Regions from separate parts of the Homo sapiens genome. Here all the other regions are linked to region 3. The links come from fine-mapping of genetic effects on gene expression. A gene starts in region 3. Each other region holds a variant in brackets. All regions are shown on one strand. Distances are between the middles of the regions.

Evidence for each region. PIP is the estimated chance that this variant, and not a neighbour inherited with it, causes the effect.
Region 1: its variant is fine-mapped to the expression of FKRP in whole blood (TOPMed, PIP 0.98).
Region 2: its variant is fine-mapped to the expression of FKRP in whole blood (TOPMed, PIP 0.99).
Region 4: its variant is fine-mapped to the expression of FKRP in whole blood (INTERVAL, PIP above 0.99). The same link has a PIP of 0.9 or more in sigmoid colon, subcutaneous fat, tibial nerve and visceral fat.
Region 5: its variant is fine-mapped to the expression of FKRP in kidney cortex (GTEx, PIP 0.95).
Region 6: its variant is fine-mapped to the expression of FKRP in sigmoid colon (GTEx, PIP 0.95).

The regions. Positions count from the first base shown.
Region 1 is chr19:46,798,835-46,802,918 of GRCh38, reverse strand. No RefSeq gene overlaps it. Among named protein-coding and RNA genes, the nearest start is that of SLC1A5, 12 kb to the right of the region's middle. The variant T/G (reference allele first, on the strand shown) is at 1,510.
Region 2 is chr19:46,699,703-46,703,786 of GRCh38, reverse strand. It overlaps PRKD2 (protein kinase D2), which reads left to right. Exons shown (of 18, transcript NM_016457.5): 6 at 2,675-2,752; 7 at 2,835-2,988. Among named protein-coding and RNA genes, the nearest start is that of MIR320E, 7.6 kb to the left of the region's middle. The variant A/C (reference allele first, on the strand shown) is at 1,742.
Region 3 is chr19:46,743,605-46,747,686 of GRCh38, reverse strand. It overlaps FKRP (fukutin related protein), which reads right to left and starts at 1,630. Exons shown (of 4, transcript NM_024301.5): 1 at 1,597-1,630. It overlaps STRN4 (striatin 4), which reads left to right and starts at 1,237. Exons shown (of 18, transcript NM_013403.3): 1 at 1,237-1,538. The coding sequence starts at 1,257. RefSeq lists silencers at 812-861, 902-1,001, 1,042-1,191, 1,202-1,251, 1,462-1,691.
Region 4 is chr19:46,712,738-46,716,821 of GRCh38, reverse strand. PRKD2 (protein kinase D2) reads left to right here. Exons shown (of 18, transcript NM_016457.5): 1 at 1-691; 2 at 2,821-2,959. The coding sequence starts at 452. LOC107987269 reads left to right here. Exons shown (of 4, transcript XM_017027568.2): 4 at 1-288. The coding sequence ends at 11. Among named protein-coding and RNA genes, the nearest start is that of PRKD2, 2.3 kb to the left of the region's middle. RefSeq lists an enhancer at 1,974-2,273 and a silencer at 2,464-2,693. The variant C/A (reference allele first, on the strand shown) is at 1,978.
Region 5 is chr19:46,720,395-46,724,478 of GRCh38, reverse strand. It overlaps STRN4 (striatin 4), which reads left to right. Exons shown (of 18, transcript NM_013403.3): 13 at 1,195-1,365; 14 at 1,529-1,669; 15 at 2,139-2,237; 16 at 2,407-2,493; 17 at 3,708-3,943. The coding sequence ends at 3,877. Among named protein-coding and RNA genes, the nearest start is that of PRKD2, 5.3 kb to the right of the region's middle. The variant G/AG (reference allele first, on the strand shown) is at 1,946.
Region 6 is chr19:46,258,761-46,262,844 of GRCh38, reverse strand. It overlaps the pseudogene IGFL1P2. Among named protein-coding and RNA genes, the nearest start is that of IGFL1, 31 kb to the right of the region's middle. RefSeq lists enhancers at 1-367, 1,704-2,203. The variant T/G (reference allele first, on the strand shown) is at 2,194.

The DNA.
Region 1 (4,084 bases), 55 kb before region 3:
TGAGAGTAGCTGGGATTACAGGCATGCACCACCACACCCAGCTAATTTTTGTATTTTTAGTACAGACAGGGTTTTACCATGTTGCCCAGGCTGGTCTCGAACTCCTGATCTCAGGCGATCCACCTGCCTCGACCTCCCAAGTGTTGGGATTGCAGGTGTGAGCCACCGTGCCTGGCCCACTTTTGCAAAAATTATATCAGTAAGAAAAATTATAACAGTAAGCTAAGCTAACCCATACTTCATCTTGCCTTTCCCTTCATTATTCCTGGGCTATTGGGCCAAACTTTGGAAGACATTTAGGGTACAGTTTAAATAATAGGCTTTGCCCAAAACTCAACCGCTTTTGTAAAGTTAATGGGAGGTCATCAGGCTGCGGGGAGGAGAGGACCCTGAGTACTGCTAAGGCGCAGACATAAAAGATTATCAGCCATTATCCTGGAGGTTAGAAGATAGGCTACTGCCCCAATAACACCGCTGTTGTAGATTGGCCTTTTGAGATATCTGATCCTTCAGACCCCCAGGGCAGGCCTTAGACCCGCCAGGGTAGGACCCTGTTCCCTCAGACCCCCAGGGCAAGGCTATTTCACAACCTCCCCCTCCACGCCCATAGGGCTATGTCCCTTCAGAGGCTGCATTGTATGGCCTGACTCACATCTGACTAGGGCTCTCTAAAGCAAAAAGTAACAATCACAGTCATAGGCCCCCCAGCCCCTAATATACTGATCTCATGGCATTGCCCAGACCTATGCTAAGGTTTTCTTTACTGCTGCTGGCACATCTGGGGTAGGTATTACTTTCATCCTATTTCAGAGATGACCCGAGGTTCAGAGATGGAATCCGTTACCCAAGATCATCTAAGAAGTAGGGGGGTGTCAGGCGTGGTGGCTTACACCTGTACCTGTAATCTCACTACTTTGGGAGGCCGAGGTGGGAGGATCACTTGAGGTCAGGAGTTTGAGACCAGTCTGACCAAAGTGGTGAAACCCCGTCTCCACTAAAAATATAAAAATTAGCCAGGCATGCTGGCGTGGGCCTGTAATCCCTGCTACTCGGGAGGCTGAGGCAGGAGAATCACTTGAACCCGGGAGGTGGAGGTTGCAGTGAGCCGAGATTGTGCCACAGTACTCCAGCCTGGGTGACACAGCGAGACTCTGTCTCAAAAAAAAAAAAAAAAAAAAAGAAGAAGCTGGGGAGGCCCATCTCTCTGCCTCCATTTCCCCCTCAACCATTGTCTTATCCTGCCTCCTAGGAAGTATTGAATGTCTTTCCATCCAGGTCACCTGAGCCCTGAAATACCTGTAGGTTCCCAGGCTGGGACCTTGCTGTGGTAGGGAAACAAGTCCCCACCTTGGCTGGATTTTGGGGGAGGTGGGGAGGGCAGTGCCTGCCACCCCAGCTTTGGGCTTCAAGGCTCAGAAACCTGAGTTACCTTTTTTTTTTTGAGACGGAATCTCGCTCTGTCGCCCAGGCTGGAGTGCAGTGGAGCCATCTCGCCTCACTGCAAGCTCC[T/G]CCTCCCAGGTTCACGCCATTCTCCTGCCTCAGCCTCCCGAGTAGCTGGGACTACAGGCTCCTGCCACCACGCTCGGCTAATTTTTTGTATTTTTAGTAGAGAAGGCGTTTCACCACGTTGCCCAGGCTGGTCTGGAACTCCTGGTCTCATGTGATCTGCCCACCTCGGCCTCCCAAAGTGCTGGGATTACAGGTGTGAGCCACCACGCCCGGCCCTGAGTTACAATTGCACCAGGAGCCACTGGGGCCTGCCACCCTGCAGCTGGGGGAGACAGGGCTGAGCCGCCCAGACAGGCCAGCTCTTAAATAAACAATCAGGGAGGTAGGAAGAGAAGGGCAGGGCTGTTCTCCAGTTCCCCAGGCTGGAATGTGCAACGCTCCTGACATCTCCTCCTTTCCTTCCTGTTTCTTTCTCTTTTTTATTTTTAATTTAATTTACTTTTTAATTTTTTTAATTTTTATTTTATTTTATTTATTTATTTTTGAGACGACATTTCGCTCTTGTCACCCAGGCTGGCGTGCAATGGTGTGATCTTGGCTCACTGCATCCTCCACCTCCCGGGTTCAAGTGATTCTCCTGCCTCAGCCTCCTGAGTATCTGGGATTACAGGCGCCCACCACCACATCCGGCTAATTTTTTGTATTTTTAGTAGAGATGAGGTTTCGCCGTCTTGGCCAGGCTAGTCTCAAACTCCTGACCTTAGGTGATCCACCCACCTCCGCCTCCCAAAGTGCTGGGATTAAGGCATGAGCCACTGAGCCCAGCCTTTTTTTTTTTTTTTTTTTGAGATGGAGTCACTTGAACCCACTTCCTGGGTTCAAATGATCCTTCAGCCTCAGCCTCTGGAGTAGCTGGGATTACAGAGGTGAGCCAGTGCTCCCGGTCCTCCTTCCTATTTCTGAAAGCAAAGCATCAACCCACATTCCTGAAGACCCTTCTGTGTGCCTGGCCCCAGGCAGGGCCGTGCTTGGGACACAGTGGAGGTGGAGACAGCCAACCCCCACCCTCAGTCCAATGGAGGTGGCAAACCGTGGTCCCCAGACTTTGACCACTCAGGGTGGCCAGGGCTGGGATTAGGAGTCCAGGGGCCTGGGGGAAGCCTGGGGAGACACGTGACCCAGACTGGTGGACTCAGCAGATTCCTGAGTGGAAATGTGAAGATTCTGGAGAAATGAAGAGAAAAATGTGCGAGGAGGCCGGGCGCGGTGGCTCACGCCTGTAATCCCAGCACTTTGGGAGGCCGAGGCGGGTGGATCACGAGGTTGGGAGATCGAGACCATCCTGACTAACACGGTGAAAACCCATCTCTACTAAAAGTACAAAAATAAAATTAGCCGGGCATGGTGGCGGGCGCCTGTAATCCCAGCTATTCAGGAGGCTGAGGCAGGAGAATCGCTTGAACTTGGCAGGCGGAGCTTGCAGTGAGCCGAGATCGCGCCCCTGTACTCCAGCCTGGGCGACAGAGCAAGACTCCCTCTCAAAAAAAAAAAAAAATGTGTGAGGAAAGGAGTGACGTGGTGAGACTCATGGACCACAGAAGGCTTGGCACACCAGTGTTTCTCAAGTAATTTTGAACTAGAGACACCTGATCCACAACAGGATGTATACATTTCATGTATTTATTTTATGATTATTTATTTTATCTATTTATTTATTTATTTATTTGAGACAGAGTCTCGTTCTGTCGCCCAGACTAGAGTACAGTGGTGTGATCTCAGCTCACTGCAACCTCCGCCTCGCGGGTTCAAGTGATTCTCCTGCTTCAGCCTCCCGAGTAGCTGGGATTTCAGGGGACTGCCACCACACTCGGCTAATTTTTGTATTCATAGTAGAAATGGGGTTTCACCATGTTGGCCAGGCTGGTCTCGAACTCTTGACCTCAAGTGATCTGCCAGCTTTGGCCTCCCAAAGTGCTGGGATTACAGGTGTGAACCACCGTGCCTAGCATATTTATTTTATTTTTAGAGATGGGGTCTCGCTCTGTTGCCCAGGCTGGAATGCAGTGGTGAGATCACTGCAGCCTCCAATTTCTGAGCTCAAGGAATTTAATTTAGAGATGGGGACTTGCTGTGTTGCCCAGGCTGGTCTGAACTCCTAGGCTCAAGGAGTCTTCCCACCTCAGCCTCTCACTAGCAGGGACTTGGGTGCAAGCTACCACACCCTAGCTAGATGTATATTTTACCTGGAATGCAGTATGTGTGCAAATATGTATATAAATTAAGCAAAAATTTCACAAAATAATAATTACTTTTACAATGCACTCTGGTGTGTGTGTGTGTTAAGACTGAAGTTCAGTGGCACAATCGTACCTCACTGCAGCCTCGATCTCCTGGGCTCAGGTGATCCTCCTGCCCCTGCCTCCTGAGTAGGTAGGATTATAGTTGCATGCCACCACACCTATCTATTTTTTTAATGTTTTTGTAGACATGGGGTCTCACTACACTGCCCAGGCTAGAGTGCAGTGGCCCAATCATAGCTCATTGCAGCCTTGATCTCCTGGGTTCAAGCAATCCTCCTGCCTCAGCCTCCCAAGTAGCTAGGTTTTCTTGTCTTTTCAGCCTTTCATATTGAACC
Region 2 (4,084 bases), 44 kb after region 3:
CTTTTTTTTTTTTTTGAGACGGAGTCTCACTCTGTCGCCCAGGCTGGAGTGCAGTGGTGTGATCTCGGCTCACTGCAAACTCTGCCTCCTGGGATCAGGACATTCTCCTGCCTCAGCCTCCTGAGTAGCTGGGACTACAGGCGCCCGCCACCATGCCTGGCTAATTTTTTTGTATTTTTAGTAGAGACGGGGTTTCACCATGTTAGCTAGGATGGTCTCGATCTCCTGACCTTGTGATCCACCTGCCTCGACCTCCCAAAATGCCGGGATTACAGGCGTGAGCCACCGCGCCTGGCCACACCCAGCTAATTTTTAAATCATTTGTAGAGAGAAGGTATCACTATATTGTTCAGGCTGGTCTTGAACTCCTGGGCTCAAGCAATCCTCCTACCTCGGCCTCCCAAAGTGCTGGGATTACAGGTGTGAGCCACCGCGCCCAGCTGAACCTCAGTCTTTAGAACCTTGGAATCCTAGATTCATAACGTGCTTAGCATGGAATTCTAAAACTGTAGAACCTGAGAATTCTAGAATCAGAACCATAGCATTCAAGAATTCCGAATGATAGAATTCAGCTAAAATAACAACAGAACTTTAGATTACACATCTTAGATCTCCCAAGTTATAGACTCTCAGAGCATGAGAATTTTGGAACCATGGGATTTGAGGGTAATAGAAACATAGGCACATCAAATTTGAGAGTCTTAGACGTCTAGAATCATATAAGCTTGAAACCATCGTAACCTAGAATCCTGGAAATTCTAGACTCCCAGAACTTTGAACAATCAAATTCTAGAATCCAGCCAGGTGTGGTGGCTCATGCATGTAATCTCAGCACTTTGGGAGGCCAAGGTAGGTGGATCACTTGAGCCTAGGAGTTTAAGACCAGCCTGGGCAACATGGTGAAACCCTGTCTCTACAAAAAAAATTAAAAATTAGCCAGGCATGGCAGCATGCATCTGTGGTTCCAGCTACTTGGGACTCTGAGGAGGGAGGATTGCTTGAGCCCAGGAGGTTGAGGCTGCAGTGAGCCATGATTGTGCCACTGCATTCCAGCCTGGGTGACAGAGCAAGAACTTGTCTCAAAAAAAGAAAAAAAAAAATTCTAGAACCTCAGAAGCCTAGATCCACATAAACTTAGAAACATCCAATTCAAGAATTTACTGGAACAATCAAATTCTAGAATCTTAGAAGCCTAGAGCTAAAGAAGCATAGAAACATCAAATTCTAGAATCTTGTATGTATAGAATCCTAGAACCTTGGAATCTGCAGATTCTGGAGGTAGAGAAGCCTAGAATTGTAGAACCCTAGAACTGTCAAATTTTAGAGTTTAGATATATAACACCCTAAAATCTTGGACATTAAAGAGTCTTAGAAGTGTTGACTCATAGATGTCTAGAGTTCTAGAAACTTGGACATCAAACTCTGAAGCCTTAGAAATACGGAATCAGGTCAGGGGCAGTAGCTCACACCTGTAATCCCAGCACTTTGGGAGGCTTAGGTGGGTGGATTGCTTGAGCCCAGGAGTTCAAGACCAGCTTGTACAACATGGAAAGACCCCATCTCTACAAAAAATACGAAAAATTAGCCAGGCATGGTAGTGCGTGCCTGTAGTTTCAGCTACTCAGGAGGCTGAGGTGGGAAGATCGCTTGAGCCTGGGAGGCAGAGGTTGCAGTGAGCCGAGATGGTGCCATTGCACACTCTAGTCTGGGTGACAGCCAGACTGTTTCTTAAAAAAAAAAA[A/C]AAAAAACAAAAAACAGAATCATAGAACCTTCATAAAATAGGTTTTTAGTAAACTCTAGAATCTTCGATGTATAGTGTCCCTAGAACCGTGGAAACACTGAACTCTACAGCAATGGTTCTCGACCAGGGGCCGTTTTGCTCCTAGGGGATGTTTGGCAAGGGTTGGAGATGGTTTTGTTTGGTACGCTGGGATAGTGCTACTGGCATCCAGTAGGTAGAAGTCAGAGATGCAGCTAAACATCCTACAATACACAGAGCAAGTGCCCTAAAACAAGGAATTATCCTGGGCACTGTGTTAGTGTCACGGGTTGAGGAACCCAGCCCTAGGGTGTTCAGAGTCTGGAGTCACAGCACATTAGAACCAATAACACACACACACACACACACACACAAGTCGGGCGCGGTGGCTCACGCCTGTAATCCCAGCACTTTTAGGAGGCCAAGGCAGGTGGATCATCTGAGGTCAGGAGCGCGAAACCAGCCTGACCAACATGGCGAAACCCCGTCTCTACTAAAAACACAAAAAAATCAGCTGGGCGTGGTAGTGGGCGCCTGTAGTCCCACGCCCAGCTAATTTTTGTATTTTTAGTAGAGACGAGGTTTTACCATGTAGGGCAGGCTGGTTTCGAACTCCTGACCTCAAATGATCTGCTCTCCCCGGCCTCCCAAAATACCGAGATTACAGGCGGGAGCCACTGCACCCAGCAGTCGTCGGGATTTTGAGTCTAGCCCTCCTACTTAATCAAGACCCCCCCGATGGTTGGGAAAACTGTGGCTGAAAGTGGGAAAATGACCAGGGCAGCAGCAGCCAGTGTTCTTACCCAGACAGCAAGAGTAGACTCTTTTGAGCCTGAGGCTTAGGGTCAAGGTTCAAGCCTTCCAGGTAACCTCTCTTCCCCTTCTCACCCGTTCCCTTGTTCCCTGTCCTACCAGACTGCAAGTTTAACTGTCACAAACGCTGCGCCACCCGCGTCCCTAATGACTGCCTGGGGGAGGCCCTTATCAATGGAGGTGAGAGGCTGGGGGGATGCTGGGGAGAAAGGGGAAGGGGCAGGACTGGGTGGAGACCCCTCTGATGCCTCCGTCCCCACAGATGTGCCGATGGAGGAGGCCACCGATTTCAGCGAGGCTGACAAGAGCGCCCTCATGGATGAGTCAGAGGACTCCGGTGTCATCCCTGGCTCCCACTCAGAGAATGCGCTCCACGCCAGTGAGGAGGAGGAAGGCGAGGGAGGCAAGGCCCAGAGGTATACACAGAACCCTCCAAGAGACCCTGGGGGAAGACCCTCCTGCACAGTGAACCTCAATTTCTTTTTCTCTACAATGGGCTGACATCACCTCATATTTATAAATTTTCCCAGTTCCTGAGGCAAACCTTTTAAAGCACTACAATTTTTTTTAAATAATTTTTTGTTTGAGACAGGGTCTCGGTCTGTCGCCCAGGCTGGTGCAGTGGTGCAGTCTTGACTCACTGCAGCCTCGACCACCTGGGCTCAAGCGATCCTGCCACCTTAGCCTCTCGAGTAGCTGGGACCACAGGCTCGTCCACCACACCCAGCTAATTTTTGTATTTCTGTAGAGACAGGGTCTACCCTATGTTGCCCAGGCTGGTCTTGAACTCCTGACTCCTGAGCTCAAGTGATCCACCCGCCTCAGCCTCCCAAAGGGTCTTGCTTTGTTGCCCACTGGAGTGCAGTGGTGTGATTGTGGCTCACTGTAACCTCAAACTCCTGGGCTCAGGTGATCCTCCTGCCTCAGCCTCCCGAGTATCTGGGACTACAGGGATGCACTGCTATCCCTGGCTAATTTTAGACGGCGTTTCGCTCTTGTTGCCCAGGCTGGAGTGCAGTGATGCAATTTCAGTTCATTGCAACCTCTGTCTCCTGGGTTCAAGCGATTCTCCTGCCTCAGCCTCCCAAGTAGCTGGGACTACAGGCACCCGCCCAGGCCCAGCTACTTTTTTTGTATTTTTAGTAGAGACAGGGTTTTGCCATGTTGGTCAGGCTGGTCTTGAACTCCCAACCTCAGGTAATCCACCTGCCTCGGCCTCCCAAAGTGCTGGGATTACAGGCATGAGCCACCGCGCCTGACCTATATTCCTCTTCTTTTTTTTTTTTTTTTTTTTTTAAGATAGGGGGTCTTGCTATGTTGCCCAGGGTGGTCTTGAACTTCTGCGCTCAAGCAATCCTCCCACCTCAGCCTCCCAAAGTTCTGGGATTACAGGTGTGTGCCACTGTGCCCCCAGCCTACACATTTTTAAACTATACACGGAGTTCATACTTAGTCAGCTCCACTGGAATGTGAGCTCAGGTGCATGAGGGCAAGGATATTTTCTGCCCTCCC
Region 3 (4,082 bases):
CACACCTGTAATCCCAGCACTTTGGGAGGCCGAGGCGGGCCTGAGGCAGATCACCTGAGGTCGGGAGTTCAAGACCAGCGTGACCAACATGGAGAAACCCCGTCTTTACTAAAAATAAAAAAAAAATTAGCCGGGCGTGGTGGCGCATGCCTGTAATCCCAGCTACTTGGGAGGGTGAGGCAGGAGAACGGCTTGAACCGGGGAGGCGGAGGTTGTGGTGAGCCGAGATTGGGCCATTGCATCCCAGCCTGGGCAACAAGAGTTACACTCTGTCTCAAAAAAAAAAAAAAAAAAAAAAATCCCCTCCTTTGTTGGGCTTGGTTCCTAGGGTCACTCGAAGGGGGCTGCTCTATTATCATAGTAACCAGGCCTTGAACTTGCCTGTTTCTCACCTTCCGGAGGAAGGTCCAGGCCCTGTAACCATAGCAACTGCCCCTCAGCAGAGCATCTCCTCTAAATAAAAACACCTGGTTAGTTTGGTGCATGGGCCTCCCACGATGGGAAGGGGAAGACGGTTACCATGGTAATGCCAACTAGGTGGCTATGGGGGAGGGGCTGGGGAAGAGGTGCTTCTCTTAGAGATCAGTGTCCTTGGGGCTGGGGTCCTTTCTACCTGAATGCTAGGTGGGGGGGAGGTTGCCATAGTAATCAATGAGGATAGGAGCAGAAGGACCACCACGGACACTTAGGTTACCTTAGCAACCTTCTCCTGGTGCAGAGTCCTAAGAGGTTTGGGGCTCCATAACCACAAAGGTGGAAGCGAGGGGAAGGCTGCTCCCCACCACCTCGCCCCCACCGCTGGGGAAGGGTTACCATGACAACCAACCTGGCCGGCAATCAGAGAGGATGGGGCCACTGCTGGTCGCCCTTTCTCTCAGAGTAAAAGTAATTGTCCAGGAGAGTGGTGTTTGGGTGTGGAAGGGGTAAGGCTCTTTCTCTGGGGCGAAGTGGGAGGAGGGGGGCAGAAAGCGGCCCCTTCCTCAGTCTCACTCCAGCGAGGGGGACCGTCGCGCGGGGCCTGGGTCTCCCTCGCCCTCCTCGGGGCGCGATCTCCCACCCGCCGGCCCCCGCGCGGGCACGCTACCCTTCGGTGTAGACCCGGGTGGGCGAGGCTCGCGCTCGCCGCCGGCCCCCCTTCCTACTGTCCCCCGCCGGGCGCGCGCGCGGTGGTTGCGGCGGGGGAGGGGGGGGGGTGTTGGCGCGGCCGCGCAGGCGCGCGAGGCACAGCGGGCGCGCAGGCCGGCCCCGGGGCCTCCATGATGGAGGAGCGAGCGGCCGCCGCGGTCGCCGCCGCCGCCTCCTCCTGCCGTCCGCTCGGCTCAGGCGCGGGCCCTGGCCCCACTGGGGCGGCCCCGGTCTCCGCCCCTGCCCCCGGGCCGGGCCCGGCAGGTAAGGGAGGCGGCGGCGGAGGCAGCCCCGGGCCCACGGCGGGCCCGGAGCCCCTGAGCCTGCCGGGGATCCTGCACTTTATCCAGCACGAGTGGGCGCGCTTCGAAGCCGAGAAAGCCCGCTGGGAGGCCGAGCGCGCCGAGTTACAGGTGAGCGCTGTCCCGGGACCCCCGACCCCCAACCCGGCCCGGCCCGGCCCGGCCTCACCCGCTGCCGCCGCCGCCGCCATCTTGGAGCAATGGCCGCCGGGACGGCCGGCGGGGGGGCGGGAGGGGACCGCGACGGTCCCGGAGGGCGAGTGAGGGGCCGTCCGAGGGGTGTCCTGAGGGCACTCCGGGGTGGGACGGGACCGGGACGGCCCGAGGTGGGAGTGGAGGGACCGGGGGTGGGAGGGATCACCGGGACCGGCCGAGAGAAAGGGGCGGAGGGACCACAACCAGCTGGGAGTGGGACTGGGACTGGGACTGAGCACGCTGGCCGCGGGGCTCCTGAGAGAGGCGACTCGAGCCCTGGAGGGGAGGCTAAGAGAACTCGGGAAAGGGTGTGGAGAGGAGCTGGAGGGGTCTGGGAGACCTGAGTGGTCTCCTGTGGGAGTAAGCAGAAGCTTGCCGGGCGCCGAGGGACTCCCGACCCCGACCCCGACCATGGCCCTAGCCAGGTGCAGGTTGGAGGTGGGAGCGTCCAAGGGGGGAACTTGGGACCCGCTGGGAAAGAGCGGGTCCAGATGGGGAACCGGGAGGATTTAGGGAGAGGAAGTCGGGAACCTGGGATCGGTGTGTTTCGGGGCGACTGGACGGTGGGCACGGAAGGAGGGCTGTGTAAGGACCCGAGGGGTGGGAGGAGGGTTTCAAGGGGTCCAGGATGAAGGTGTGTGCCTTCCCCTCTGAGGAGAAACTTTGGGGATCCCGGGCATGTGTGGCTGCACAGTGCAGGGAAGGGTTCTTTGGAGTGGAAGTGTGGACAGAGCAGGGAATGTACCCTAGGAGCCTGGATGGGAGAGCTTAAGAGTGGAAGTTCCACTTTGGGGGTGTGCAGGAGTGGGCGCGATGGCACTGAGATGGCACGTGTGTTGTAGGATGTAGGTAGAGAGCCCTGAACTGGAGTGTGGGGTGTTGGGCATGTCCAGTATGGAGGTGAGGGTCCTGGGATGGTGCCAATGAGGACGAGTTAGGGGTTACCCTGGGGTGATGCTTTAGGGGGGAGAATTTTGTAGAGCCCGAAGGCAACATGAGGAGGCATCTCGGAACGGGGGTAGACTGGGGTTGGGGGGAAGGGGATATGTTTGTGGAAGTCTTGGGAAAAGACCCCGTGGTTTTTGGGGTAGCTTGGGACAGGGATGTTGAATGGAAGAGTCTGAGGAGTTGGGCTAGGGTTTGTGACCTCGTGGAGCGTCAGGTCCATTGGCAGTGACTGGAGGACCATGGAGATGTCCGGATTTGAAGGGATCAGGAATGGCCCGCTGGAAGTCTGAAGATTCTTGGACTGGGTTATTATTAGCAGAAATTGTCATTACCTGCTTGTAGCAGCCCACCTTTCCCCTTCCGATTTGCCGTTTGCTATCTAGTAGGAAGCTGGTACCCAAATAAATAGCTGATGAGAATTGTGTCGGTAGGGATGGGGTGCGGTGGCTCACGCCTGTAATCCCAACACTTGGGGAGGTTGAGGTGGGAGAATCCCTTGAGCCCAGGAGTTCGAGGCCAGCCTGGCCAACATAGCAAGACCTCATCTCTACAAAAAAGTACAAAAATTAGCCGGGTGTGGTGACATGCGCCTGTAGTCCCAGCTACTCAGGAGGCTGAGGTGGGAGGATTGCTTAAACCCCGGAGGTTGAGGCTGCGGTGAGCCATGATTGCACCACTGCACTCCAGCCTGGGCAAAAGAGTGAGATCCTGTCTCAAAAAAAAGCATTTTGTTCATAGGATGAGTAAAGACCCTCCAGTAACTCTCCCCCTGCCCTCACTTGTGGTGGCTGAGGCTTGGGGCTGGGATGGGAGCAGAATCCTTATGTAACTGCTCTCACTTCTGTCCCACTCTCTACTTCCGAAGCTCTTTCCCAGCATACATCTCATCAGATCTTCACAATGCCCTGTGATGTAGGCAGAGGCAGTGTCATTACCTCACTCAGCAATAACGGTACCAGCTGCAATTTAGTGAGCACATACCATGTCTGGGGCGCTGTATCAAGTACTGTAGATACGAGCTGTCATTTAATTCTTGCAGCATTCTGGGAGGATAAAGGATATTCCCCCTACCTTTAAAAAAAATCAGGAGAGGAAATGGAGGTTTTGAGAGGGTGATTTATCTAGGATCCCAGCAGATGAGCAGAAGGGCTGGTCTGTGGTGGACCTTTTGTTTATTTATTTATTTATTTATTTATTTTTATTTTTATTTTTTTGAGACAGAGTCTCACTCTGTCACCCAGGGTGGAGTGCAGTGGCATGATCTTGGCTCATTGCAACCACTGCCTCCCAGGTTCAAGCGATTCTCCTGCCTCAGCCTCGCAAGTAGCTGGGATTACAGGTGTGCACCACCACCACGCCTGGCTGATTTTTGTATTTTTAGTAGAGATGGGGTTTTGCCACGTTGGTCAGGCTGGTTTCGAACTCCTGGCCTCAAGAGATCCACCTGCCTCGGCCTCCCAAAGTGCTGGGATTACAGGCATAAGCCACCATGCCCGACCGTCGGTAGACTTT
Region 4 (4,084 bases), 31 kb after region 3:
CCCCAAGGTGAATTCCCCCGGGCCGCCTTCTGAGTGGGATCCTCTTCTTGGAGCACTGGATCCTGGGATTCCCTCTGCCCCCTTCTCAATCCCTCCTCTAGGGAAGGGGCCTTTGAATCGCGGGCTCTCCTGATCCCTGTGACCCCGACCTACTAGATTTCCTCTCAGGCTTCTTGGAATCTCAATCGCTGGGACCTCCAACCCACTACTTTTCTCCTTTCTGATCTTCTGGGAGCCCTGGATTCCGGGCCTCTGACCCACTATAGTGCCTTTCTCTCCTTCCCAGGACCCCGCCATCCTCAGGTCCCCTCCGCCTGCCAGATCTTTTCTCGGATCCCCGCTCTCCCACCACCTGCTCACGAGATCCCGCGGATCTAGAACCCAGGGTCCCCCGGGGCCCCCCGGCCGGGTCCCGGGTGGGCTCCAGGCGGCCGGTCCCCGGCCTCCCCCCATGGCCACCGCCCCCTCTTATCCCGCCGGGCTCCCTGGCTCTCCCGGGCCGGGGTCTCCTCCGCCCCCCGGCGGCCTAGAGCTGCAGTCGCCGCCACCGCTACTGCCCCAGATCCCGGCCCCGGGTTCCGGGGTCTCCTTTCACATCCAGATCGGGCTGACCCGCGAGTTCGTGCTGTTGCCCGCCGCCTCCGAGCTGGCTCATGTGAAGCAGCTGGCCTGTTCCATCGTGGACCAGAAGGTGAGGGCGCAGGCTCCCTGGATCCAGCTCGGGGAGAGGTTGAAGGAGGGGGCGCTGGCAGAGGGGTCTGGGGCCTGGTGTGCGGAAGAGGGAGGAAGGAGACCTGAGCTTTGGGTGATGGAGGGATAGGGGGCATTGCCCCCCTCCATTGCCCCTCTCCCCACCATCCCTTTGAGAGAGGACTGGGCAGGGGTGGGGTGCCCCAGAGGCCTCCCCAAATTTCATGTCCCTGCATGTCGTTGTTTTCTGCAGCAAACAGGGAGGAAGGGAGGGGCCAGCCAGGTGTAGAGAGGGGAGGAAGGGGCAGCAGATGTCGGCGGACCTCCACGTCCAGGCCCATCCCGGGCCTCCCATTTGGTGGAAACAGGAGAAATTGAACCCGGGCTGGCCATGGTGATCCGGTGACATGTGTGGGTGCAGGTGCTTGAGTTAGCTGCCAGGGGCAAGTGAGGTCTCGGAGCCCAATTCTGCCCTCCCCTAAGCCTGAGATATGTGTGGAGGGGCAGGCACTCCTACAGACCCTGGGGACTCTATTCCCTTTCCTAGTCACAGTGCTGTTAGCCTACTCTTAATTTTGGACACCAGGGTCCCCAGGGTGGGCAGCTGGGTGTTATGGCAAGAGGAAACCAGGTGGAACTCCACGTCTAAACCGTGAAATGTTAAAAGAATAGTGGGCTTCTGTGTTGGAGTACTGGACTGTAGAAATGTTAGAATATTAGAATCATAACTTGTTGGAATATGCATCCTAGGCAATTAAATTGCCCCCATGTTCGTGTTCAAATATTAGAATTCTAGGTTTGTGAAATAGTAAAACATTAAAATGCTGGAATATTAGATTCCTAGATTGTTGAATCCTAGAAAGTTAAAATGTTAGAATTTTAGAATGCTGGATGGATGAGGTCCTTGAATGCTAAAGAATTCAAAGAGCACAGTCCTAGCTTGTCAGACTCCTAGAATATTAAAATATTAGATTACCGCTTATTTAGGTTATTGAAATCCTAAAATGTATAGTGATACCAGGTAGGAATCTAGAATGTATAATTCTATAATGTGAGCATGTTGGAGTCCCAAAATATCCAAATTCCAGAATCTTTTCAGACTCCTGGAAATGAATCCTTTGGGCATCAGAGAAACGTGGGGAACTGGGCCAGCTCCCCCATTCTACAGACAAGGAAACTGAAGCTTAGAGAAAAACTTCCCAAGGGGTCAGGGCCAAGGCAGTCCTGGTCTTCTGTGGACTCTCTCTTAGCAGTGAGAACTGATAGGGTTTTGCCCACCAAATGCCT[C/A]AATCCCGCAGGCCCAGCTCACCACCCCAACTCAGCCCACTTCATGGGAAGCTGGTGGCAGTGGGGGTACGGGGGCAGATTGTCCCTTGGGTGAACTTCTTTGTCCAGTGCTCAAGTCCCCAGCCTGCCCCGCTCAGGCTTCACCCCAGTTTTATTTTTCTGCCAGGTCCAGGTGTGTTAGGGCCGCTTACCTTCCTTCCCGAGGCCCCACCGGGGCAGTTTCACTTTCTGTTCTACTAGGTTTCATTTCCTGCCCCCAGGCCCCCAAAGCTGAGGACCCAGACACCTGGGTCCTTTGAGCATTGGGTGGCAGGCGCCCTCCTTATCTCCAGCGCCCTCGAGTCCAAGTCCCCCGGCCCCCCCCCCCACTTTCCCAGGAGCCCCGAAAAGTCCTCCTTCCAGCTCGCCCCACCCCAGTGCTGGGCCTGGAGCCAGGTAACTGGGACAACAATAGACAGATCCAGGAAGGAAGCTGGGGGGCGGGTGTGTGAGCCTGGGGAGGAGGCACAGGGGAGGGAGTGTTCATTCAGCATCCCCTCCCACCTCCGCCAGGTTCCGGAAAATTCGAGGTGTCCACGCTCCCGGAGCCACTCTCCCTCCCACCCCAGCTCCCCCTTCCAGCCACCAAACCCACGCCGGCGCCCCCTCCCCGTACAATTGGGGCGCTGGCATCCTGCCCGGCTCGCGCTGGGGTTGGGAGGGGGCAGGCAGGAAGCGAGGGCCTGCGGGGTCTCTGCGTTTCCGGGGGAAACAGCCGGCCCTGCCCTGGGAGGGTCACAGTCCGCCCGCTGCTGAAGGCGGCTCTGAGCTTTTCCGTCGCCACATCCCTCTCCCGCCCCTCAGTTCCCTGAGTGTGGCTTCTACGGCCTTTACGACAAGATCCTGCTTTTCAAACATGACCCCACGTCGGCCAACCTCCTGCAGCTGGTGCGCTCGTCCGGAGACATCCAGGAGGGCGACCTGGTGGAGGTGGTGCTGTCGGGTGAGAGGTGGTGGCCGGCCTGGGGGCGGGGCCTCGGGTGGGGGCGGGGCATCTGGGGGAGGAGAGGGTAGGGGGAGTTAGAAGTCAGGAGAGGCCGGGTGTAGTGGCTCACGCCTGTGATCCCAGCACTTTGGGAGGCTGAGCTGGAGCTGGGGGGATCGCTTGAGCCCAGGAGTTCGAGATCAGCCTGGGCAACATAGTGAGATTCCATCTCTACCCCTTTCTCTCCCTCTGAAAAAAAAAAATAAGGAGAGTTGGGGGCTTCTGGAAGATGGTTACAGAGTGGGGTCATGAAGGCGCTCTTTAGGGACTGGTCTAAACTTTCATTTATGGATTAGGATGCTAGTGACACGCTTTGTACAGTTTGAAAATTCATTGAGCTGTGCACTTGTGATGTGCGGCCTTTCCTGAACATATGTTATACTTATTTATTTATAAAACTAGTCAAGTGCAGTAGTTAGAAGGGGGAAAAGAGGAGAAGAAGGAGTTGGATCTGTAACTGACTGTGTTATGCTTAAATATAAAGGTAAAAAATGGGCCAGCTGCAGTGGCTCACACCTGTAATCCCAGCAGTTTGGGAGGCTGAGGTGGGAGGATCGCTGGAGCCCAGGAGTTTGAGACCAGCCTGGGCAACATAAGGAGACCCCATCTCTTAAAAAAAAAAAAAAAAAAAAAAGTTAACCGGGCGAGGTGGCACACGTCTGTAGTCTCAGCTACTTGGGAGGCTGAGGTGGGAGGATTTCTTGAGCTTAGGAGTTTGAGGCTGCAGTGAGCCACGATCATGTCACTGCACTCCAGCCTGGGCAACAGAGAGAGACCCTATCTCTAAAAAAGAAAAAAAGTAGAAAAAGAAAAAAAAAAGTTATGATGTCCATGGCTCCTGCCACGAAAATGCTAAATTAAATCAGAATCTCTGCAAAGTGAGATGGAATCTGCACATCAGTATTTTTAAAAGCCCCCAGGTGATTTTCTAAGACACAGCCAGAAGCCAGTTCATCCACTCACTATTCCAGTAGTATAGATGGGCATGCTCTCAGCACCTTAGAGCAGTCTATGGCCCTTGGTCCCTCTTGAGGGTGGGGGCAGCTGCCTTTTTCATGGCTGCCTTCCCTGCTGCTCCGGCAT
Region 5 (4,084 bases), 23 kb after region 3:
CATGCCGTGTACTCTGTGTGTGGGGATCCGCCAGGGTCTCTGCGTGGTTGAGGGGAGGGCATGTCCAGAGAAAGCAGAGAAGGTGGAGTTAGCTGGGCCAGGCTGGAGCGCGTTGGGGCTTTCTCTTTGGAGCATCTAAGACCTAAGTAGGGAAGTGACCAGACTGTCACTTCTGTTCAACATCTGTCCCCCTGTTCTCTGCCTTTTTTTTTTTTTTTTTTTTTTTTTTGAGACAAAGAGTCTCACTCTGTCACCCAGGCTGGAATGCAGTGGCGTGATCTTGGCTTACTGCAACCTCTACCTCCTGGGTTCAAGTGATTCTCGTGCCTCAGCCTCCCGAGTAGCTGGGATTACAGGCACGCACCACCATATCCAGCTATTTTTTGTATTTTTGGTAGAGACAGGGTTGCACCACGTTGACCAGGCTGGTCTTGAACTCCGGACCTCAGGTGATCCACCCACCTTGGCCTCCCAAAGTGCTGGGATTGCAGGCATGAGCCACTGCGCCCGGCTCTGCCTCCTTGATCATGCACCTGGCCCTGTGCTCCACCTTGTCTGGGCAGAGTTCAGAGGTCTTTGTCTCCTCTCAAGGGGAGGACAGACTTTAGAGAACAGGCTCACCTGCACAAGGTCAGGATCGGTCCCAGCTACATTAGCCACCACACTTTCGGTGTCAGCAGGCCAGAGCTGCTGGTGTGGACTCCAGCAACCAGGGAAGCAGTGATTGGACCTCTGAATGACCAGGGGGCTTTGGAGAGACCAGGCAAAGCCCATGCACTTGGCCATGGGCTGAAAAGACTGCTCGGGCCAGGGTTGGGACCAACCCTTGTCCAGCACAGGCTGCGTGCCGCTCCTGGGGCCACAGAACCATGCTGTTCCTTCTTCCTTAATGGAGCCCGAAAAATTCTGTATTGAGCTCCCAGTTTCTGGGCCCTGCTTGGGGAGACAGCTGTGAATAGAGGGAAATCCCTGCCTTCTGGAGCCCTAGAACCTTCCTTGGAGAGCTAGTGGGCAGTGTGAGCAGCTGCCGGGCTGTCCTGGCAGTGGACAGTTCCGAGGGGCACCAGGTGTGAAGTGGGTGCGTGGGTGATTGGAGCCCAGCTGCCTGGGGCTTGGCAGAGCTGGGGCTCTGGGCTGTCCAGGGAGGAGCTGGCAGCCCTGACACAGCCCATTTCCTCCCTGCGGTGGGTGCAGACCCAAGCGTGCTGAGCCACGTCCTGGAGGGCCACGGGGACGCCGTGTGGGGCCTGGCCTTCAGTCCCACCTCCCAGCGCCTGGCCTCCTGTTCTGCTGATGGCACCGTCCGCATCTGGGACCCCAGCAGCAGCAGCCCGGCCTGCCTCTGCACCTTCCCCACAGCCAGCGGTGAGTGGGGGCCCCGGTGCCTCACCCTGGAGCTGTGCGGGATCTGGAGGCTATCAGAGTGGTTCCTGCTGAGGCCCCAGGCCTCCCACCCACTGTCCCCCACCCTGGGGCAGGGCTGGGTCTGAGGGTCCATTCAGCAGCCTTCTCTTCCCTGTGCCCTCAGAGCACGGGGTCCCCACCTCAGTGGCCTTCACCAGCACCGAGCCTGCCCACATCGTGGCCTCCTTCCGCTCTGGCGACACCGTCTTGTATGACATGGAGGTTGGCAGTGCCCTCCTCACGCTGGAGTCCCGGGGCAGCAGCGGTAAGGGGGCTGACATCAGCTCATGGAATTGGTCTCAGTGTCTTCTGGGCCCCACTTCCTCCTGGGGCTTTGGCGACCCCTTGTCAGTCAGCTCAGATGACTCCCCTGCACCCTCAGGCCCTGAGCAGGAAGGAAGTTGGGTCCCAGTGGAGGGCCCCCGGCCCTCACAGCCAGGGCACTGGCGGGGCTGAGTGGGGAGAGCGCGTCAGGGCCGCCCCGTCGGGCCCTCTTGGTAGAGTGGCGGAATGTGTTCATGTTTGTTATTCCTCTTCCCCC[G/AG]CCCCAAAACAGGGCCCAGGGGCTGCTTGTGCAGAACCAGCGCTGCGGTCGGGGACCGGAGTGCCCTCGCCCAGCCCCCCTCGACATCCAGGCAGAGGCTGGTGTAGGGGCTGTCACGCTGCGCTTGTGCCTCTGTTCTGGTCTTCCTGATTTTCTGCTTGACATCCTTCCCTCTTCCTGCGTTTTCCTTCAGGTCCAACCCAGATCAACCAAGTGGTGAGTCATCCAAACCAGCCTCTCACCATCACCGCCCACGACGACAGGGGCATCCGCTTCCTGGACAATCGGACAGGTGAGGCCTAGCCCCTTGTGCTCGTAGTGGGTGGGGAGGGCCAGAGGCAGGCAGCAGAGATGCTTGCGTCCCTGTGGGAGGCTCTGGGAGTCTCTCGTCCAGTCCTTTCACTCTCTCAGGCGAGGCCCAGAGTGGGAGGGGAACCTGCCACCCGCCCTTCTCGCCTCAGGTAAGCCGGTGCACTCCATGGTTGCACACCTGGACGCAGTCACCTGCCTAGCCGTGGACCCCAACGGCGCATTCCTGATGTCAGGAAGTAAGTTGAGCACACTAGTCCCACCAGGGTTGGGGAGAAGGGGAGGAAGAGGCCTGGGCACTGGCTCCAGGCAAGTGCTCAGGGGGCCCCGGGGGCCAGGGCTGGGGGAGGCTGGTCTGGGCGGGAATGACCGTGGTGACCATAGGGGGCAGCACAGTCCGCTGGGGCCCTCCTCTGGGTCACTGGAGCTGCATCGTCTCATTCGGCCTCTAAGCAGCCTGTGCGGTTGGTACTTTGATCCCCAGTTTACAGATGTGGGCCCTGATGCCCAGACGCTTTGTAACTTGGCCATTGAAGCTCTGTAACATCAGTCCAGGTCTACCTGGGGGTACCCGTGGGACTTCTGTGCTCCCACCCTGTTGTCTCTGGATAAGGGCATTGAGGCCAGCAACGTGGCTGTGCTTAGAAGGGATGGAGTGTGACGTGGGTGGGTGGAGAAGGAGACTGGAGGTCGCTGTGGGGGTGAAGGGTGAGGCCTGCAGTGAGTGCAGCAGTGAGTGTGTGTGCACAGAGGCGCAGGCCGTGGTGTTGGAGGCTGTGGCTGGGCTCTGCCTCCGGGCCTGTGCTGGCAGCCTCTGGTGGGTGAGGGGCTGGTCAGTGAGCTCCAGCCCAGTGCCCAGACAGGGCTCTATTCTGGGGGCCACTAGACAGTGGAGGGAGCTGAGCCTTTGCCCTGCCTGATCCTCTTGACCCTAAATTAAACTTCTCCTCGCCAGGGCCCTGCCCAGCCTGCCGTCCTCTCCCCTCTTCTCCCCAAGTCCCTGCTAAGGCTCTTGTGGCCACCCCCACCTCCTGCCTCAGGACCTTTCCCGCCTGTCCTTCTGCCTGGAAGGCTCCCTGCATTCCTCCTGGGGCCATTCTGTCCTCACACTGACCGGCTGGGTTGCTTTCTTCTTTCTCTTCCTGTTGCCCAGCTGCAGCGTCAGTGCTGCGGGGCAGGGAGAGTTGCCTGTTTTGTTCACTGCCCCTGCCGCCCTGGGGCTCAGTGTGCAGTAGCTGCTCAAGAAATGCTGGGGGATGAGATGGACTGTGGACAGGAGGGGACCAGGGTTCTCCTTTGGGCGGGCCACAGGAGGTGATGAGCAGAGGGTGAGAGAGGAGAGTTGAGCCCCACTTCCCCTGAGGCCTTTGGACAAGGCCAGGTGAGGGGTTCCAGGGCTGCGTCTGAGCGAGGAGCCCAGTGACCACCCCTTCTGTCCCCGACACATGTGCAGGCCATGACTGCTCCCTGCGTCTCTGGAGCCTGGACAACAAAACGTGCGTGCAGGAGATCACGGCCCACCGCAAGAAGCACGAGGAGGCCATCCACGCTGTTGCCTGCCACCCCAGCAAGGCCCTCATTGCCAGTGCTGGCGCTGATGCCCTGGCCAAGGTCTTCGTATGATGCCCACCTGGCCCTGCCCTGGCCGCCACGCTGGCTGGGGTGTAGGGCCGGGCAGGTGGGGCTGAGGTGAGGGCAGAAACCCCGCATTCTGAGTCTCTGCACGCCCATGCCTAGTACTGCCAGGTGTGCTGAGCCCCGCAGTCCAGTCAGGGGCGTCCTGTGAGAATCACTGGGGGAGCCCTGGGCATGCAGGGGAGGGGTTGAGGC
Region 6 (4,084 bases), 480 kb after region 3:
TCGAGTAGCTGGGATCACACCTGGCTAATTTTTGTATTTTTAGTGGAGACGGGGTTTCACCATGTTGGCCAGGCTGGTCTTGAACTCCTGACCTCAAGTGATCCACCCGCCTCGGCCTCCCAAAGTGTTGGGATTACAGGTGTGAGCCACTGCGCCCAGACTAATTCATGTTCTTATTTTTCTTGTTCTGTATAATGACTAGGGAGAGTTAAATCACTTTGGGGCAAAAATCACTGCCTTCTGGTGTTTGTTTGTTTTTAGACACAGTCTGGCTCTGTCACCCAAGCTGGCAGGTAGTGGCGCGATCTCAGCTCGACTCTGCCTCCCGGGTTCAAGTCATCCTCTTACCTCAGCCTCCTGAGTAGTTGGGACTACAGGTGTGTGCGACTGTGCCCAGTTCATTTTTGTATGTTTTGGTAGAGGTGGAGTTTTGCCACGTTGCCCAGGCTGGTCTTGAGCTCCTATATATAAAATGTCATATATATATGACACATATATATGACATTTTATATATGTATATCATATATATATCATATATATAATATGTATATCTCATATATGTCATATATGTATATATATGACAAAGACAGAGGAGTCTAAGTAAATGTATGTACTTCTTCAGAGACAGGGTCTTACTCGGTTGCCCAGATAGGAGTGCCGTCTACTCCACTTCCACCCCCAGGGCCGGGCAGGTGACGCTTTGGCCTCTACCTGGGAGACACTAGAGCTCACACTGTGGGCACCTCTGGAGCTGACTGGGGAGATTTTCCTGAATCCTCGGCTCCCGCTGGGTCTGGACACCCTGTGGCTCCCTTGTCACAGGATGGCCTCACACCTCTTCTGCTGTCCTGGGCCCTCGCACTGATTCACGTCTAGAAGGGGACCAGGTCATACAGCAACCTTCGGTGCATGTCTCAGCTCTAGACTCACAGGGTCAGCTGTAAGACTGTGGCTGTGTGAGTGTGGGAGGGTGAGGACAACCCCAGGAGTGTCCTGCAATTTCCTATTTGCCAAAGAAGCCTCCATTCTGGAGGAGAGAGGGACCGAGGGTGGAGGGAGCATCGGTCCTCTCCTGGCTCTCAAAGGATCTGGCATCAAATCCACCATGACACATACCCTGTCTGGGACCTGTCTCGATCCAGGGCCCAGCATGTCTCTGCAGGAAGGCAGGGCATCCCACGGTATCACCAGCTCCTCTAGGAGTATAGGAGCCAAGGAGCTGCTGAGACCTGCTGATCACCCACTCACTCCCCTCCAGCCACCCCGGAGCCATGGCTCCCGAGGCCATGTCCTGGGTAAGGAGGACAGGACCCCATTCCCACCCGAGCCCATCTCCCATCTCAGCCACCACCGAGGCTCACTCCCCACCCCAAACTACACCTCATCCCTGTCCCCATGCCCGGCCTCCTCCTCAGACATGGCTCCATCACAGCAATTCCCCATCCATAGCCCCCGGGCCAGCCCCATCCACAGCCATTTCAGTCCCCAAACTACTCCCCAAAGTCTTGCCTAGCGCTAGTTCCAATCCCAGCCCCATCTTTTTCTAAATGTTGGTGCCAGTCACACCCATAGCACAACACCAGTCTCAGCGCAGCCCCTTCCCTCCCTGACCCCAGCTGAGCCCCAGCTCTGAGCTCCTCCAAAACCAGGAAACAACCACATTGCCCTGAACCCTAGGCCCATTTCTTCCGAGAGTCCTGCCTGCACCCCTTGACCACAGAGAGATTGAGGGTGGAGGGAGCATCGGTCCTCTCCTGGCTCTCAAAGGACCTGGCATCAAATCCACCACGACACATCCCCTGTCTGGGACCTCTCTCACCCCAGGGCCCAGCGTGTGTCTGCAGGAAGGCAGGGCAAGGTCAGCTTCTAGCCCTTCCCTGAGTCTCAGTCAGGGCAGAAACTCCCTCGGAGCCCCCCTTCCCCAAGCTGGGCTTCCAAGGATCGCCTGTGGTTTCCCGATCACCCCCTCTTCCCCTTCCCTCTCCCACAGCAGTCTTGGCCTCTCTCTGCATCCTCAGGCTCCTCTGCTCACACGGAGCCCCAGGTGAGCCCAGGAGGGACTGGGAAACTGGGGGATGAGTGTGGCCCCCAGGGGACCCCCGGCTGGGACCCATCTACCAACCATCTGACCTCACCAGCTCTGTCTCCTCCAGTGGCCCCATAAGTGCTTACCTCATGCTCTGCCAGCGGCAT[T/G]TGGGAAGTGGGGACAAGCTCTACGACCCCTTGCGGCACTGTTGCTATGACAGTGCTGTCGTGCCCTTGGGCAGGACCCAGAAGTGTGGAAACTGCACCTTCAGTGTCGCTTCGAGCAGTGCTGCCCCGGTCCCTCAGCTCCCAGGCGTCCCTCATGGTGAAGACGAAAGGCCAGAAGTGCTCCTCAGCCCTGACCTCGGGTGACAGGCTTTCTCGTAGGTGAGATCCGGTCCTCTCCATGGCATTGTGGGTGCAGGGGAGCGGGGCGCTGCATACTTGTTCTGCACTGGGTGGAGTCCCCATTCTCCGTGTCTGTCTGTCTCTGCCCTCCCACCTCTAGGTAGTGTCATCTTCATTTATAATGGCGTTGTTTCAAATTTTAATAATAGACAAAAAAGGCCGGGCGCGGTAGCTCACGCCTGTAATCCCAGCACTTTGGAAGGCTGAGGCGGGCGGATCACGAGGTCAGGAGATCGAGACCGTCCTGGCTAACACGGTGAAACCCCGTCTCTACTAAAAATACAAAAAATTAGCCGGGCTTGATTGCAGCCGCCTGTAGTCCCAGCTACTCGGGAGGCTGAGGCAGGAGAATGGCCTGAACCCAGGAGGCGGAGCTTGCAGTGAGCCGAGATCTCGCCAATGCACTCCAGCCTGGGCGACAGAGCGAGACTCCGTCTCAAAATAATAATAATAATAAGAGACAAAAAAATCTTCTCTCCCTATTACACTCTATCAAGTTTTACTTGACAATATTTGTGCAGTTAGCTTTAACATCTCCAAAGTAATTTTCTAAAGCTTCCTCCTGAAAAATAGCAAAATTTAGAAGTGCAGATTGAGATGAAAATTTTTTGTAAATATTGTTTGGCTTTGGGAACAATGACCAAAATGTTTAATACTTCCCGTCCCAGAGGTTTATTTACTTTTTTTTTTTTTTTTGCCTCTATTCAATCCACCTCTCCTTTTCCCTCCACTTGTTTCTCTTCCTCCATCTGTTTTGATTTCCCTCTCAGAACCTCGCTCTTTCAGCATCGTTGTCACGAGGCAGTGGCAGCTGAGCACCGAGGGCGGGGTCTCCAGCCCGTGCGGCAGAGCTGCTCACTCCTGCCTGGCAGGAGTCCATCAACAGATAAAGCTAATAATGGCAAACTGATATATGAGAAAGGTGACATTATACATTAGAAGAAAAGGGATGAAACTAGTCAACAAGTAATTTTAGATTCAATAGGCCACATAAGGATGCAGAATTTACTTTTTTTCTGGTGACTCAAAGCCAACAAGAATGAAGAAGTGGCCAGGTGGCCGGGCACGGTGACTCACGCCTGTGATCCCAGCACTTTGGGAGGCCGAGGCGGGCGGATCACGAGGTCAGGAGATCGTGACCATCCTGGCTAACACGGTGAAACCCCGTCTCTACTAAAAAATACAAAAAATTAGCCAGGCGTGGTGCGGGTGCCTGTAGTCCCAGCTACTCGGGAGGCTGAGGCAGGAGAACGGTGTGAACCTGGGAGGTGGAGCTTGTAGTGTGCGAGATCGCGCCACTGCATTCCAGCCTGGGCGACAGAGGGACACTCCGTCTCAAAAAAAAAAAAAAAAAAAAAAGTGGCCAGGTGCAGTGGCTCACGCCCGTAATACCAGAACTTTGGGAGGCTGAGGCAGGCAGATCAGCTGAGCTCAGGAGTTTGAAACCAGCCTGGGCAACATAGTGAAACCCTATCTCTACAAAAACTACAAAAATTAGCAGGGCATGATGTGAGCCTGTAATCCCAGCTCTGGGGAGACTGAGGCCCAAGAATCGCTTCAGCCTGGAGTTGGAGGTTTCAGTGAGCCAAGATCCCACCATTACACTCCAGCCTGGGTGCCACCCTGCCTGGCCCAGGTTTATTTACTTTTT